2 linked regions of the Homo sapiens genome follow. Each later gene encodes a partner of the first gene's protein in a complex. Each region holds a gene or a part of one and is shown on either strand. Other genes may lie near its edges.

Region 1 (6,908 bases):
TGTAATCCTAGCACTTCAGGAGTGGTCACGACTTCGAGACCAGCCTGGCCAACATGGTGAAACCCCATCTCTACTAAAAATACAAAAAACTGGCTAGGCGCAGTGGCTTATACCTGTAATCCCAACACTATGGGAGGCTGAGGTGGGTGGATCACAAGGTCAGGAGTTCGAGACCAGCCTGGCCAACATGGTGAAACCTCCTCTACTAAAAATACAAAAATTAGCCGGGAATGGTCGTACATGCCTGTTATCCCAGCTACTGGGGAGGCTGAGGCACAAGAATCGCTTGATCTTGGGAGGTGGAGGTTGCTGCGAGCCGAGATCACGCCACTGCACTTCAGCCTGGGCGACAGAGCAAGACTCCGTACTCCCCCCCAACAAAAAAAAAAAAGCTGGTCGTGGTGGTGTACACCTATAATCCCAGCTACTCGGGAGGCTGAGGCAGGAGAATCGCTTGAACCTGGGAGGCGCAGGTTGCAGTGAGCCGAGATTGAGCCAATGCACTCCAGCCTGGGTGATGGAGCGAGACTCCATCTCAAAAAAAATAAAAATAAAAATAAAAATACCTGCTACTCTACAAGTTGTGGGAAAGAATCTTGGATCTGGCAAGGCGCGGTGGCTCACGCCTGTAATCCCAGCACTTTGGGAGGCCGAGGCAGGTGGATCACGAGGTCAGGAGATCGAGACCATCCTGGCTAACATGTTGAAACCCTGTCTCTACTAAAAATACAAAAAATTAGCTGGGCGTGTTGACGGGCACCTGTAGTCCCAGCTACTCAGGAGGCTGAGGCAGGAGAATAGCGTGAACCTGGGAGGCGGAGCTTGCAGTGAGCCGAGATCATGCCACCGCACTCCAGCCTGGGCAATAGAGCGAGACTCCGTCTCAAAAAAAAAAAAGAATCTTGGCTCTAAGTGTTCACGTCCCATTTAATTAAAAAAGATTTGTACAAAAGTCAATATATTTTTTCAGTACAAAAGTCAATACATTTTTTAAAGGCTAAACTAAAAATATACCAAGTAATATTTCCCTAATCAAAATCCATTGCTTCAATTTTCACATTTTATAGCTCTTCATACCACAGAAAATGTTTAAGGAAAAATAAATTTCAGGAAAAATTTATCTACTTCTTTGTTTTCATTTCTTTTCACTAACACAAGAAAACAAAGTACAGTACTTACCACTGAAGCAACCTGTCTCCCTGTGTTTCGCAAAATGCTTGGAAGCCAGGAAAACTTCGGTAAAAATCATACTCATCGCCAAACTGTGGTAGGCCCCCAGATGCCTTGGTGACTGCCACCACGGACCCAAGAGCAAACTGTCAAAAACAAGAAAAGATGGCATGTTTACACAGGGATCCCCATTCATTTGGTATGTCATTTTTTTGATCTATCGTATACAAGGTATCTACTCTTCATCCATCAAAAAAAGCACTCATTTAGTGCCAAACCCCAATCTAATCTAGGCCCTGAGAATACAATACTGAACAGGAAACCAAGTTTGGAGCTTATATTCTTGGGAGAGTTGAGAGACAGAATACATACGTATATAATCTGATTAATATTCACAAATACCTGGGGTTGAATCTTGACTCTGCTACGTATTAACTGAGATCTTGGACAAGTGATTGCTTTATTTGGACTTTAGTGTTCTCCTCTGAGAAACAGGAAAAATAAAAAGGGCCTGCACCACAGAGTTTTTGTGAGGACAGAATGAATAAGCTAATAAAAGCACTTAGGACAGTTCTTGGCACATAAGCGTTATTATTACGACTCAAGTTCAGATCCAAGAGCTTTCTACAGGAATTTGTTTTTGTGTTTTCATCTGGATGAGCATCTAAAAACAATACAAGCTTATCCTAGATCCTTGGACGACAAATTTATAACAGCTACTATCTAAAACTGGATTTGTGTTTATTGTTCAGTTAGTGTCAAGTGGTTCTCTATTTTAACTGTTGTGAGGTAACGAAAAAAAGCCGTGAAGTGACATAAATGATGGCTGATCATGTGAAGGCCTAAAACGTCATTGTGAGTTTTGTGAATAAACATTTCCCAAGAAAAAAGCAGAGAAAGGAGGTGGGAAATTAAGTCACGGAGGGGAACATGGTAGCTTATGAGCATGACCGCCACACAACCAGGACCACAGTTAGTGGTCCAGGAACTATTGAGAGCCATGTTAATGAATCAATAGCATTAGCTAACAGCAAATTAGATAAGATACAACGTTAGTGGAATTTCTGTAAATTTATAGGGTTAATTTACAAATTATTTTAGTTTCATTGCTTTGTAAGAGCTATGCACACCTTAAGCCTAGTTGTACGTTTGCTCATATTTAAGCTAAGTTATACAAAGATCTTAAGTGAACGCCCTGTATACCTTCCAGGAGTTACTAATAAACGTGCAATGGGGCTTTAACAGGTGACATTTAACTCAGGGTTAAAAATTATGTAGGACTGGACTTCAGAAACAGAGGAAGAGAAGGGCCATACTGGCCGCGGGAGGAGACAACTCCAGGCAAGTGTGGGGAGCGCGAAGAAGCCGAGCCCCTGCGGAGAGCTGGTCGGGTGGCTAGGGCGTGGCGAGCGCGACGTCGCAAGGGCTAGGGACGTCTGGGTGGCAAGGAAGCCTTTCCCAGGATGCGAGACGGCTTTCCACATTTGGGCCTCCATGGACTTAGGCTCGCAAGCGGGACGCCCCTCAGTGTCCGTTTCCGAGGCCCCATCCCCGGAGGGTGCAGGAGAGTCTGCGCCCAGCGCGGACAGGGGCCCCGCGACCCTCGCTCGGGCTCCACTACGGCGGGCGGGCATTGGCTGCCCAGAGGGCCCAGTCGGCTTCCGGCGGCCGCGGGCGACTCCTGGTACCCCCGAGGCCCCGCGAACTCACCTTCACAAAGCTGTCGGCGTCCGGGAAGCCTGGCAGCACCATCTCTCCGTCGGATTTGGTTGCGCTGGTCGCCGACAGGACCCTGGGCTCCCGGGTACTGGGTGGCGCCATTTTTTCAGCCTGCACGGCTCGTCTCGCGAGAGCTTGTCGGCCGAGGAGACGGGACGCGTGCGCACCACGCATGCGCCAGGTCGAAGCGGCGGGCGGGGCGTCTGATTATAGTGTGGGGAGCCTGCGATTGGGGTGGGGCGCCTGCGATTAGGTTGGGAAGCCTGCGTTTAGGGTGGGGCACCTGCGATTAGGTTGGGAAGCCTGCGATTAGGTTGGGAAGCCTGCGATTAGGGTGGCACTTTCGAGCGCTCTGGTGTGAATTTCACGTTCTTTTACCTCATATTGTATCATCCCAACAACCCTGTGATCTAGGGTGCGGCCTGGAGGACCTGACTATCACATATATTTTTGACACGAGGTTTGCCCAATCTGGTTTCGAACTCTTGGGCTCAAGAGATCCTCCCACCTTAGCCTGCGAAGTAGCAGGGACCCCAGGCGAGGGCCACGATCCCCGCTTATCCTCGTGTTTATTTAAAAATTTAAAAAACAAACAAACCGGGATTACCGGGAGTGGTGGTGCGCATCTGTAGTCCCAGCTGCTCGGGAGGCTGAGGTGGGATGGTTGCTTGAGCCGAGGAGGTGGAGGCTCCACTGCACTCCAGCCGGGGTGACAGGATGAAACCCTGTCTCAAAAATTTCTTTTTAAGGTTATGTTTTTGAGGCTGGGCGCCGTGACTCACACCTGTAATCCCAGCACTTTAGGAGGCCGAGGCGGGTGGATCACCTGAGGTCGGGAGTTGGAGACCAGCCTGGCCAACATGGTGAAACTCTGTCTATACTAAAAACACAAAAATTAGTCGGGCGTGGTGGCACATGCCTGTAATCCCAGCTACTCGGGAGGCTGAGGCTTGAGCCCGGGAGGTGGAGGTTACAGTGAGCCGAGATCGAACCACTGCATTCCAGCCTGGGCAACAGAGTGAGACCTTGTCACAAACAAACAAAAAAAACCATGTTTTTGGGACAAAGTTTCACTCTTGCTCTCCCAAAGTGCTGGGATTACAGATACGAGTCATCAGCGTGCAGCCTATTTTTATTTTTATTTTTTTTGAGATGGAGTCTCACTCTGTTGCCCAGGCTGGAGTGCAGTGACGCAATCTTGGCTCACTGCAACCTCCCGCCTCCCGGGTTCAACGAATTCTCTTGCCTCAGCCTCCCGAGTAGCTGGGATTACAGGCGTGCACCACCACGCTCGGCTAATTTTTTTCGTATTTTTAGTAGAAACGGGGTTTCACCATATTGGCCAGGCTGGTCTCGAACTCCTCACCTTGTGATCCTCCCGCCTCGACCTCCCAGAGTGCTGGGATTACAGGCGGAGCCACCGTGCCTGCCCTGTTTATTTTTTTTTTTTGAGACAGAGTCTCACTCTGCTGCCCAGGCTGGAGTGCAGTGGTGCAATCTCAGCTCACTGCAACCTCCGCTTCCTAGGTTCAAGTAGCTGGGATTACAGGCGTGTGCCACAATGCCCGGCTAATTTTTTTTTTTTTTTTGTATTTTTAGTAGAGATGGGGTTTCACCATGTTGGCCAGGCTGGTCTTGAACTCCTGACCTCAAGTGATCCACCTGCTTTGGCCTCCCGAAGTGCTGGGATTACAGGTGTGCGCCACCAGCGCCTGGCTTATTTTTTTTAGACTGCATCTTACCAACCTGGTCTCGAACTCCTGGGCTGAAGCCGTCCTCCCACCTCACTGGGATTACAGGCAGGAACCACTGTGCCCGGCCCAGCCTCATATTTAAAGTCACCTCCTCCCAAGCTCTGGCTGGTTCTGTGTTCCCCTCACCCATTTGGTCTTGACTCCTGTAATTAATTACACCTCCCCTGCCCCCTGGATCTATCTTTTCCCTCTCTATTGGTTCATTCCTAACAGCCTACAAGTACACTGACATCTTTCCCAACTAAAAGAGAAAAGGAAAAAACACTGGCTCCCACATCTCCTTCCAACTGCCATCATCTCTCTCTTGCCCTTTACAGGTAAGCTCCTGAAGAAAGCGTCTAGCTCCAACTGTGCTTCCTCCCTCCAGTACCCTCTGAACTCCTCCAAGCAGACGTTGTTTCCTGCAGACATCGCTGGAACCATTCTGGTTAACACAGAGTGGGAACTCAGTACACATTTGTGAAGTGAACTCCTGGAAGAGCTCTTGTGAGGGAGGCACCGAATTATCAGGCAGCTCAAGAGATAGATTCACTCTCCTGAAATTAGAGATGGGATGCCCTTAATACAATTCATTCCACCCATTAAGTCTTCAATAAATGTTCAGCATATCCAGTTAAGAGAATACTTGCTTTTCACTTTTTCCGTGTGTGTGCTTCAGGTACACAGGTACTCTGGCAGGACAAACGCCTAGTTCATTTAGTATTTTTGAGGACCTATTTCACGTGGTTCAACCTAATACCACATGTCAGTCAGGCTGTGCTAAATGCTCCTCCATGGATTATCTTGTCTTTCAGACAGCCTCACAAGGTAGGGCTTACCCACACTTTCAGAGGAGACAAGCAGAGAGAATCTACGTAACTTATCCAAGGTCACAAAGGTACTATGAGATGCAGTTGATATTTGAAACTTAGTAAGTTGACACTACAGCCTTGATTCTTTTTTTTTTTTTTTTTTGAGATGAAGTCTCACTCTATTGCCCAGGCTGGAGTGCAATGGCATGATCTTGGCTCACTGCAACCTCTGCCTCCCGGGTTCAAGTGATTCTCCTGCCTCAGCCTCCTGAGTAGCTGGGATTACAGGCGTGCACCACCACGCCCAGCTAATTTTGCATTTTTAAGTAAGAGATGGGGTTTCACCATGTGGGCAAGGCTAGTCTCAAACTCCTGACCTCGTGATCCACCCGCCTCGGCCTCCCAAAGTGCTGGGATTATAGGCATAAGCCACCATGCCCGGCCTCAGCCTTGATTCTTAAAAAATACAACTGGCTGGGCGCAGTGGCTCACACATGTAATCTTAGCACTTTGGGAGGCTGAGGTGGGAGGATGGCCTGAGCTCACCAGTTTGAGATCAGCCTGGACAACATGGCAAGAATCAGTCTCTACAGAAAATACAAAAATTAGCCGAGTGTGATGGCATGCACCTGTAGTCCCAGCTACTCAGGAGGCTGAGGTGGGAGGATAACTCGTGCCCGGGAGGTGGAGGTTGCAGTAAGCTGAGATTGCACCACTGCCCCCCAGCCCGGGTGATAGTGCCAGACCTTGTCTCCAAAAAAAAAAAAAAAAAAAAAAAAAAAAGAAAAAAATAGTTAACCTGTTAACAACATCTGGTGATTAGGGGCTCCCATCCCTTTGAGCAGTCGAAAATCCACATATAGCTTTTAACTCCCCCAAAACTTAACTAATAGCCTCCTGTTGACCAAAGGCCTTACCGATAACAAACGGTCAACTGACACATATTGTGTGTATGTATTGTATTCTTACAATAAATTACGAAAATTTTAAGGAAAATATATTTACTATTCATTAAGTGGATCATCATAAAGATCTTCATCCTTGTTTATGTATTTATTTTTAGAGATAGGGTCTCTGTCATCCAGGCTGGAGTGCAGTGGCACAATCATAGCTTACTGTAAGCTTGAACTCCTGGGCTCAAACAATCCTCTGGCCTCAGCATCCAGGGTAGACTGGGCCCATGCCACCATGCCCAACGAATTTTTTTATTTTTTGTAGAGGCAGGGTCTCACTATGTTTCCCAGGCTGGTCTCAAACTCCTAGATTCAAGCAATCCTCTCACCTTAGCTTCTCAAAGTGTTGGGGTTACGGGCATGAGCTGCCGTGCCTGGCTGGACTAAACTGTATTTAAAGGCCTCCACTAGCTCCTCCTCTGCCTTTGATAATTTGTCTCAACACACCCAGAAGGCTTTGCTTAGATATAACTTAAAACCTATCGGATTCACCAAAGACCTTAATCCAGACTCTTATATCC
Region 2 (7,031 bases), on another chromosome or scaffold:
TCTAGCCTGGGCGACAGAGCCAGACTCCATCTCAAGGAAAAAAAAAAAAAAAAAAGACTTCTTTTTTATTCCCCAAGGCCTGGAACTAAGAGCTTAAAAAGTGCTTACCCAACGAACAAAATCAGGGTGTTATCATATGGCCCTATTTCATAACTCCTCATCTTTTGTTTTCACATTTAGTATATTCAAAGACATGGTAAGGCAGTGGAAAACCAATAGTTTTTCATCAAGTTAACTACTCTTGAAATGTTCAGGAGAAAAAAACGTTTAAATTCCAACTCTTTGTCTTTGAATGTCCCAGGAACTGGTTTCTAAAACAATCCTTAACATTAAAAATATTTCAGAAAACAGAAGTTGAAAAGGCTCGCAGTGTGTTAGCAATCTGAATGATAACAACAAATTGATTTTAGTAGCAGAAACTGAAATATGACACCTGGAGCAGCATTTAAATTTGGATGTGTATAAACATCTATATCTTGGTGTCTGAACAAAATCAACTTGAAGATCATTTAAAAATATTCTATCTGAAAAAACCTGCACACAATCTGGTTAATGTATGTTTTTTGAACTGAGCATATAATAAGAGGACAATTTTTTGCCATTTTCATATACAAATAAAAACACTTCATCTTTTATCACTAAGGCCTGAAGAAACCACAACATTTTAAAAAAGAATAAATGCATAGTTGGTGCTTATTAAATAACTTAGAGTGTTAAAAGGTTGGACGTATAATTCTAATATGCTATTTCCATACAGTTTTAAGTTCAAGTCATAAACCTTTCCCAACATTAAAGGAAGCAAAATCGTTTTTCAAAGTATTTGTTTAAAAGGTAGACAGCTATTCTTCATTTAAGTACTAGGCAAGAATTTTAGACTTGTTCAATTAGAAAGCCTTTGTTTAGCAAATACAATGACTATGGCTGGTAGTTACACTAGTAATCTAAAAATAAAACAAGCTATTTCTGGTTTCATTGAATAAATCATTACAAGTACAATTTGCATCCCCAATAAAAGAGTCTAAAATTTAAAAATAAAGTACTCTTTTCCCCAAGAAAAGAACGTATGCTTCTGAAACAATGTATCTATAAATAAGATTAAATAATACACATTATCAACAAGAAATAAGCAATAACCCTGCCACTATAAAAATGCAAGCCAAAAGACAATTCACACTAGAATCTTAAATACCCACATACTGGGGACACTGCAGTTTACTAATCTACAGTCAGATCTCTTGGCCAGGTGTTGAAGCAGAAATATAAAATAATGTTACTGCATTCCTCACTATCAAAGAGAATACGAAATTAGTTTTAAAAGTCCCTTCTGACAAAATAATGAATTCCTCCCATCCCCCTCCGACAAGGGACCTTTTCTAAGGTGGGGGGAACCTATGCCATATAGAAATAAAGAATGCAAAACGTATACCTCCTGCCTCTTTGATGCTGCACAGCTTGACAAGCTGTCTGCATGAAAATAATTCCCTTCAACTCAGGAAACTCAAGGATCTCAAGATAATCTTGAACAACTTTCCAGTCTGGGATCACGTAATGAGTCACATCACTAGACAAGAGTTTCCCATCTGAAACATAATTCAAAATGTAAGAGATTAGACAATGTTTTCAAACCTGGTTTATTTAAATGTCACGGTGCTCTGGCATGCAAAATAACTTCCAGTCTTAACTCCATGGTGGGAGTTTTTAAAAGACAAATCTACTTTGGTAGAGGCCCAAAGTTCAGGTATATTGAGCACCCTCATTTTTTTGGAAGCTGTGATAAATACAAGCTCAACGTGGTTTATGGTGTTGCCAGAGGTGCCGGAGAGGATGGCTGATTTAACAACGAACAAGCACATTTTCAGCATAACCTGAATATTTCAGTGTTAACTCATCATTGACAAACACATTCAAATGAAGCACCCCCACATTTATACCACTTGTGTATGATGCCCAGCAATTTAAAGTTGGCTCTGTGTCAAGCTTCTGCACGTGCTCAGCAGCCTCCAAGGGCCAGAAAGATTGAACAGAGAAAATGCTCCGTGCAAGCAACGTGCAGAGGTGAGGTTTCCCACCAGACCTGCATCTGAGAGCTGGTTAGCCAAGCTCTAACTGAAATGTTCACCTTAATCACAATGTTTGGAGGATTCCACACATTCGCTGACAAGGACCCCCAGCCCATTCTCATCCTCCCATGGGGGAAGAGAGCCAGTAACGTGCATCGTTCTATCGGCCACCCTTGTGGCCTAGAAACCAAGGACTGGGGCCCAGGAGTCCCCAGTCCAACTTCCCCGTGACCTTCCGCTCCAGTGCGGGCCCAGAGAGTTCACAAATCTACGGTGAAGTGGCTCTCCACTGGGGGAAAAGTCTGGGGCAACAGTGCGGGCAGGTCAGGAAACCTGTGGCTGCAAAGCAGGCGATGTCAGCTTCGCAGCGGCAGCAGCTGGCCTGTAGCTCCCGGGGGCTCCCAGCTCGGGACCTCCCCATTTCTCCACGGCGCGAGGTTGCGGCGGGAGGAGGCCTCGGCTTCCGCGCCCTCAGGCCCCTCTGAGGAGCCAAACCACCCGGCCTCCGGCATGGGGTGCGGGTCTGTCGGGCCCTCCCATTGGACAGGGCGGAGCAGTAAGGGAGTCCCGGGCGCCCCAGAAGCCGCGGACCCGGGCCGCTGGGTCCCCACCGGCAGAGAGCCGGGGGGTGAGGCCGGCGAGCGGGCGCAGGCCGCGGGGCCTACGCCTCCGTGTCCCCGCCGCTGGCGCTCCGCCTCCCGGCCGCGCTCAGCCCCTCACTGCGGCCGCCCGCTCCCGCCGGCCCCGTCCCCGCCCCCGCCCCGGCCCTGACCGTGGCTGCAGGCGGCGGGCTGCGGGCAGAGCGGGCTGTGGCAGGGCACGCAGGGCCGCAGGTAGTGCTCGCGCACGATCCGCAGCGTGCGGCCCTGGAAGGTCCTCAGCAGCAGCACCTTCTCCCGCTTCTGCAGCATGGCGGCGTGTCTCCCGGCGGCCGCGGAGTGGCGGGCGCGGCGGAGGCAAGGCCGCGGCCTCGGACCCGCCCCTCGGCCCTAGGCGCCGCGGCTCCGGAACCGCCGTAACTGCCGCGCCCGGGGGAGGCCCGGAGCTACACGCTCCAGGCTGGGGCCCGGCCCTCCCGGCCTTAGTTTCTTCCCTTCCCTCAGTGGCCTGGACCAGGGCGGAGGGGTGGAAACGACCTACCCCAGAGACGGAGGGAAGACTAGGATGATACCTGGACGGCAGGTGAAGAAGGGCTGGGCGCAGCTGTCCAAGATTAGGAGACTTTGTTTGTCCCCCCCAGGTCCATGTGGGAATGGAGCCGCCGTATTAATACTAATACCGGGTAATTAATGTTTTCTCTTCGTTGCTCTCGCTATCTCCAAACGAGGTAAAAGACTCAGCACATAAGCCGGCAACCCTGCCAGCCGAACATTTCTAAAAAGTTATATTCATTTAAAATTACATGTACTTTTTTTAAAGTTTTTTTCTTTTTTTGTAGAGATGGGAGGGTGAGGGGGGCAGGTCTTGCTCTGTTGGCCCGGCTGGTCTCAGGCGATCCACCTGCTTCGGCCTCCCAAAGTGTTGGGATTATAGGTGTGAGCTGCTGCGCCTGGCCTTTCATGTTCTTTTTAAAATTTATTTATTTGTTTTGGTATCCCTATTGAAGTTATCATGTACTTATATAATCAAACAATGCAGATAAAATGAAAACCAATCTCTTCCCTTGAAGCACTGTTCCACTCCAACTTTTATAGCTTTTGCAGCCTCTGGCAAAGGATTTCTCCTTTAAACTGCCACTGTGACACAATCACAAACGTACATGTTTGTATTAATTTTTTTTTTTTTTTTGGACAGGGTCTTGCTGTGTCACTCATGCTGGAGTATAGTGCATGATCATGGCTCACTGCAGCCCCCGAACTTCTGGGCACAAACGATCTTCTCCACCACGCCTAGCGTTTTTTTCTTTTCTTTTCTTTTCTTTTTTTTTGTAGAGATGGGAGTGTCTCACTATGTTACCCAGGCTGGTCTCAAACTCCTGGGCTCAAGTGATTCTCCCACCTCAGCCTCCCAAAGTGCTGGGATTACAGGCGTAAGCCACCACGCCCAGCCTGTAGCTCTTGATAAAGAGATGCACACAGTCTCTTCTGAGATCACACACCCTTGATGGGATAGAATCCACTCTTCTTCCAAGCACTCAACTAAGACTTTTGAGCTGCACTAGCAGCTTTGTATACGTGTCCCATTTAATTTCCACAACAAGTCAAAGGAGTGGGGCATTATCATTCCTATCTTATAGACTATAAAACAGGGTTAGGGAAGTTAAGTGGCCAAGGTTACCCAGTTATTAAGTGGTGGGATCAATATTCAAGCCAGAATCTGACTGAATTCCAAGGAGGCTCAGAAGTAATTACCGTGCTATTCAGAGATGAGTAAAATACAGGTCCTGCATTTAGAGACTTTATAGTCTGCTTGGTGAGCTCCAGTTAAGGCAGCTCAACCAGCTGGCTGGAAACATCAGACTTCCTGTGATGCTGAAGCAGGCAGAACTGAGGATGCTCTGTTGGATGGCTCTTGTCACTCTACAGGAATGCATGAAAGAGAGCCACGATCTCCCACTCATTGTACTTCCATGTCAAGTTACCCTGCAGTGTGAGCTGATGTGAATGAGATCTGAGGTGGAATTGCACGAATTAGGAAAACAGCACAGAGCTGGCCTGTAAGGCAACCAGCAGTGCAGGAGGCTGTCCCTAATTCAGGAGGTCAGTTCTGGACAGCCCAGAGGACAGTCAAGTTGCCAGATTTGTCCCCTACATAAATATGTTCCAGGCAGCTGACCACAGTTCCCTTCAAAGCTCCCTCACGTTCATTTTTCTTTTATTTCTGATTATACCAGGTTATGGGGGGGGGGGGGTGTTGATTAGATACTAATATGCCCATGACATCGCTTTTTAGCACTTGGTAGCTTTAAACTTTCTTCAAATTGGGTCAAATGATCTTTTAAGGAAGAGAGTGTGTCTGGAGTTCTATTGAAAGTTGGCTTTATTAGTATTTTAAATAATTCAAGGTCCATTAAGCACTTCTTTTGCTTGCATTTTGGCGATAATGTATAAATTATGTTTTAAAAAGCATGATTCCTTAATTCTTGGAACTAATGAGCTAAAATGGACAAGAGTGCCTTTTTGTTGGTTGGTTGGTTGGTTGGTTGGTTGGTTTGCCTCACAGGCCATCTGATGCCTCTTGCCTGAAAAAAAGTGTCTATACTTGTAAGAATAAGCCAGTTTATGCTGTGGTAATATGCAACTTTAAAAATCTCAGTGACTTGGCCAGGTGCGGTGGCTCACGCCTGTAATCCCAGCACTTTGGGAGGCCTAGGAGGGCAGATCACCTGAGGTCAGGAGTTCGAGACCAGCCTGACCAACATGGAGAAACCTTGTCTCTACTAAAAATACAAAAATTAGCCGGGCATGGTGGCACATGCCTGTAATCCCAGCTACTCGGGAGGCTGAGGCAGGAGAATCTCTTGAACTTGGGAGGTGGAGGTTGCAGTGAGCCAAGATCGTGCCATTGCACTCCAGCCTGGGCAACAAGAGCAAAACTCCGTCTCAAAAAAACAAACAAAAAAATCTCAGTGACTTAAAATGACAAGATGTTGCCTAGGCACCAAGAGGCTCTGCTCTGTGCCCTTTTCCAGGACCCAGGCTGATAGAGCAGGCCCTCTCTGGAACACAGACTGTGGTCATTGGCAAAGGAAAAAAGTCCCCCAGAGAGTCTCATCCCAGCAATTAAAAGCTCAGTCCAGAAGTGACACATTTCAATTCTGCCTATTGACCACACAATAGGGGTGGGTGGGGCAGGAAGTGTGTGCCACCTCATGACCTGAAGGGCAGAGCACTGAAGCCCTTTGGTGAACAGCATCAGTGACTACCTGAGTGACCTAGCTCAAATCCCTTATCCCTAAATGAATCAGTCTGCTCTGCCAGCACCTTAACCTTTGTTGCTTGTGACTACTTCAGCTCAGCCCACTATCTGGTCTCTGCTTGGGCATTCTACTGCTCTCCTCTTTTCATATTTGATGTGTCTTTCCCAAACTCCATGACCCCGTAGGCCAAGGATATATCACCACATTATCTCTAATCTTTATCACAACTCTTCAGTGTAAATATGTGATTTCTTGTGGCAGAGACTGGTTCTGGCTCTCTGTTTGCCAAATCCATGCCCTCTTTTTCTCTGGGCACAGAGATAAATGACATTTCCCAGCTTGCCTTGCAGATACACAGGTGTGGCCATGTGACTGAGTTCTAGTTGGCGGAATATAATGGCACCATTTCCAAGCCTGGCCCATAAAAACCTCCCATGCATGCTCCTTTTCCTGTTCTACCAGCGGGAGACCAATGCCCAGGGGATTTTGAGAGCCAGCATTAGAGATGGCAGGCCCCTCATCAACTTGGGTCCCTGAAGGACTGTTCACAGCAGAGTGCTGCTGCCTTTGACCCAGGAGCATCCACAGTGGATTCTCTCTCTTTTTTTTTTGAGACGGAGTGGCCCAAGCTGGAGTGCAGTGGTGCAATCTTGGCTCACAGCAACCTCTGCCTCCTGGGTTCAAGCGACTGTCTTGCCTCAGCCTCCCGAGTTGCTGGGACTACAGGCGCAAGCCACCATGCCCAGCTAATTTTTGTGTTTTTAGTAGAGATGAAGTTTCACCATGTTGGCCGGGCTGGTCTCGAACTCCTGACCTCAGATGATCCCGCCTGCCTCGGCTTCCCAAAGTGTTGGGATTACAGGCGTGACCCACCGCGCCTGGCCCACAGTGGACTCTTGTAAGGGAGAAATAAACTTGTTACCGCACCTATCATCACCCTAACTAATTACTCTCTTTATAAAGGAGATTAAGGAACTTGTCCAAGAGTTGTGTAGGGCTATTTGTTCCAAAATCCTTCACTAGATATTAAATGTCCTCATGAAGCTGCTACAGTTTTCTTTTTTCTTTTGTTTTTTTTTTTCTTTTTTTTTTTTTGAGACAGAGCCTCACTT

What was found. The genes of interacting proteins can lie anywhere in the genome.
Region 2: EXOSC10 (region 1) and DIS3L share a complex: the UniProt entries of both Homo sapiens proteins name them as parts of the RNA exosome complex.

What each region holds. Positions count from the first base shown.
Region 1 is NC_000001.11:11,096,841-11,103,748, forward strand, and holds the start of EXOSC10 (exosome complex component 10), read right to left. Parts: upstream 3,030-6,908; 5' UTR 2,992-3,029; coding exon 2,881-2,991; exon of another isoform or gene 2,835-2,880; intron 1,317-2,834; coding exon 1,180-1,316; intron 1-1,179. UniProt on the Homo sapiens protein: Catalytic component of the RNA exosome complex which has 3'->5' exoribonuclease activity and participates in a multitude of cellular RNA processing and degradation events.
Region 2 is NC_000015.10:66,289,537-66,296,567, reverse strand, and holds the start of DIS3L (DIS3-like exonuclease 1), read right to left. Parts: upstream 3,001-7,031; 5' UTR 2,972-3,000; coding exon 2,833-2,971; intron 2,754-2,832; exon of another isoform or gene 2,482-2,753; coding exon of another isoform or gene 2,394-2,481; exon of another isoform or gene 2,120-2,393; intron 1,581-2,119; coding exon 1,427-1,580; intron 1-1,426. UniProt on the Homo sapiens protein: Catalytic component of the RNA exosome complex which has 3'->5' exoribonuclease activity and participates in a multitude of cellular RNA processing and degradation events.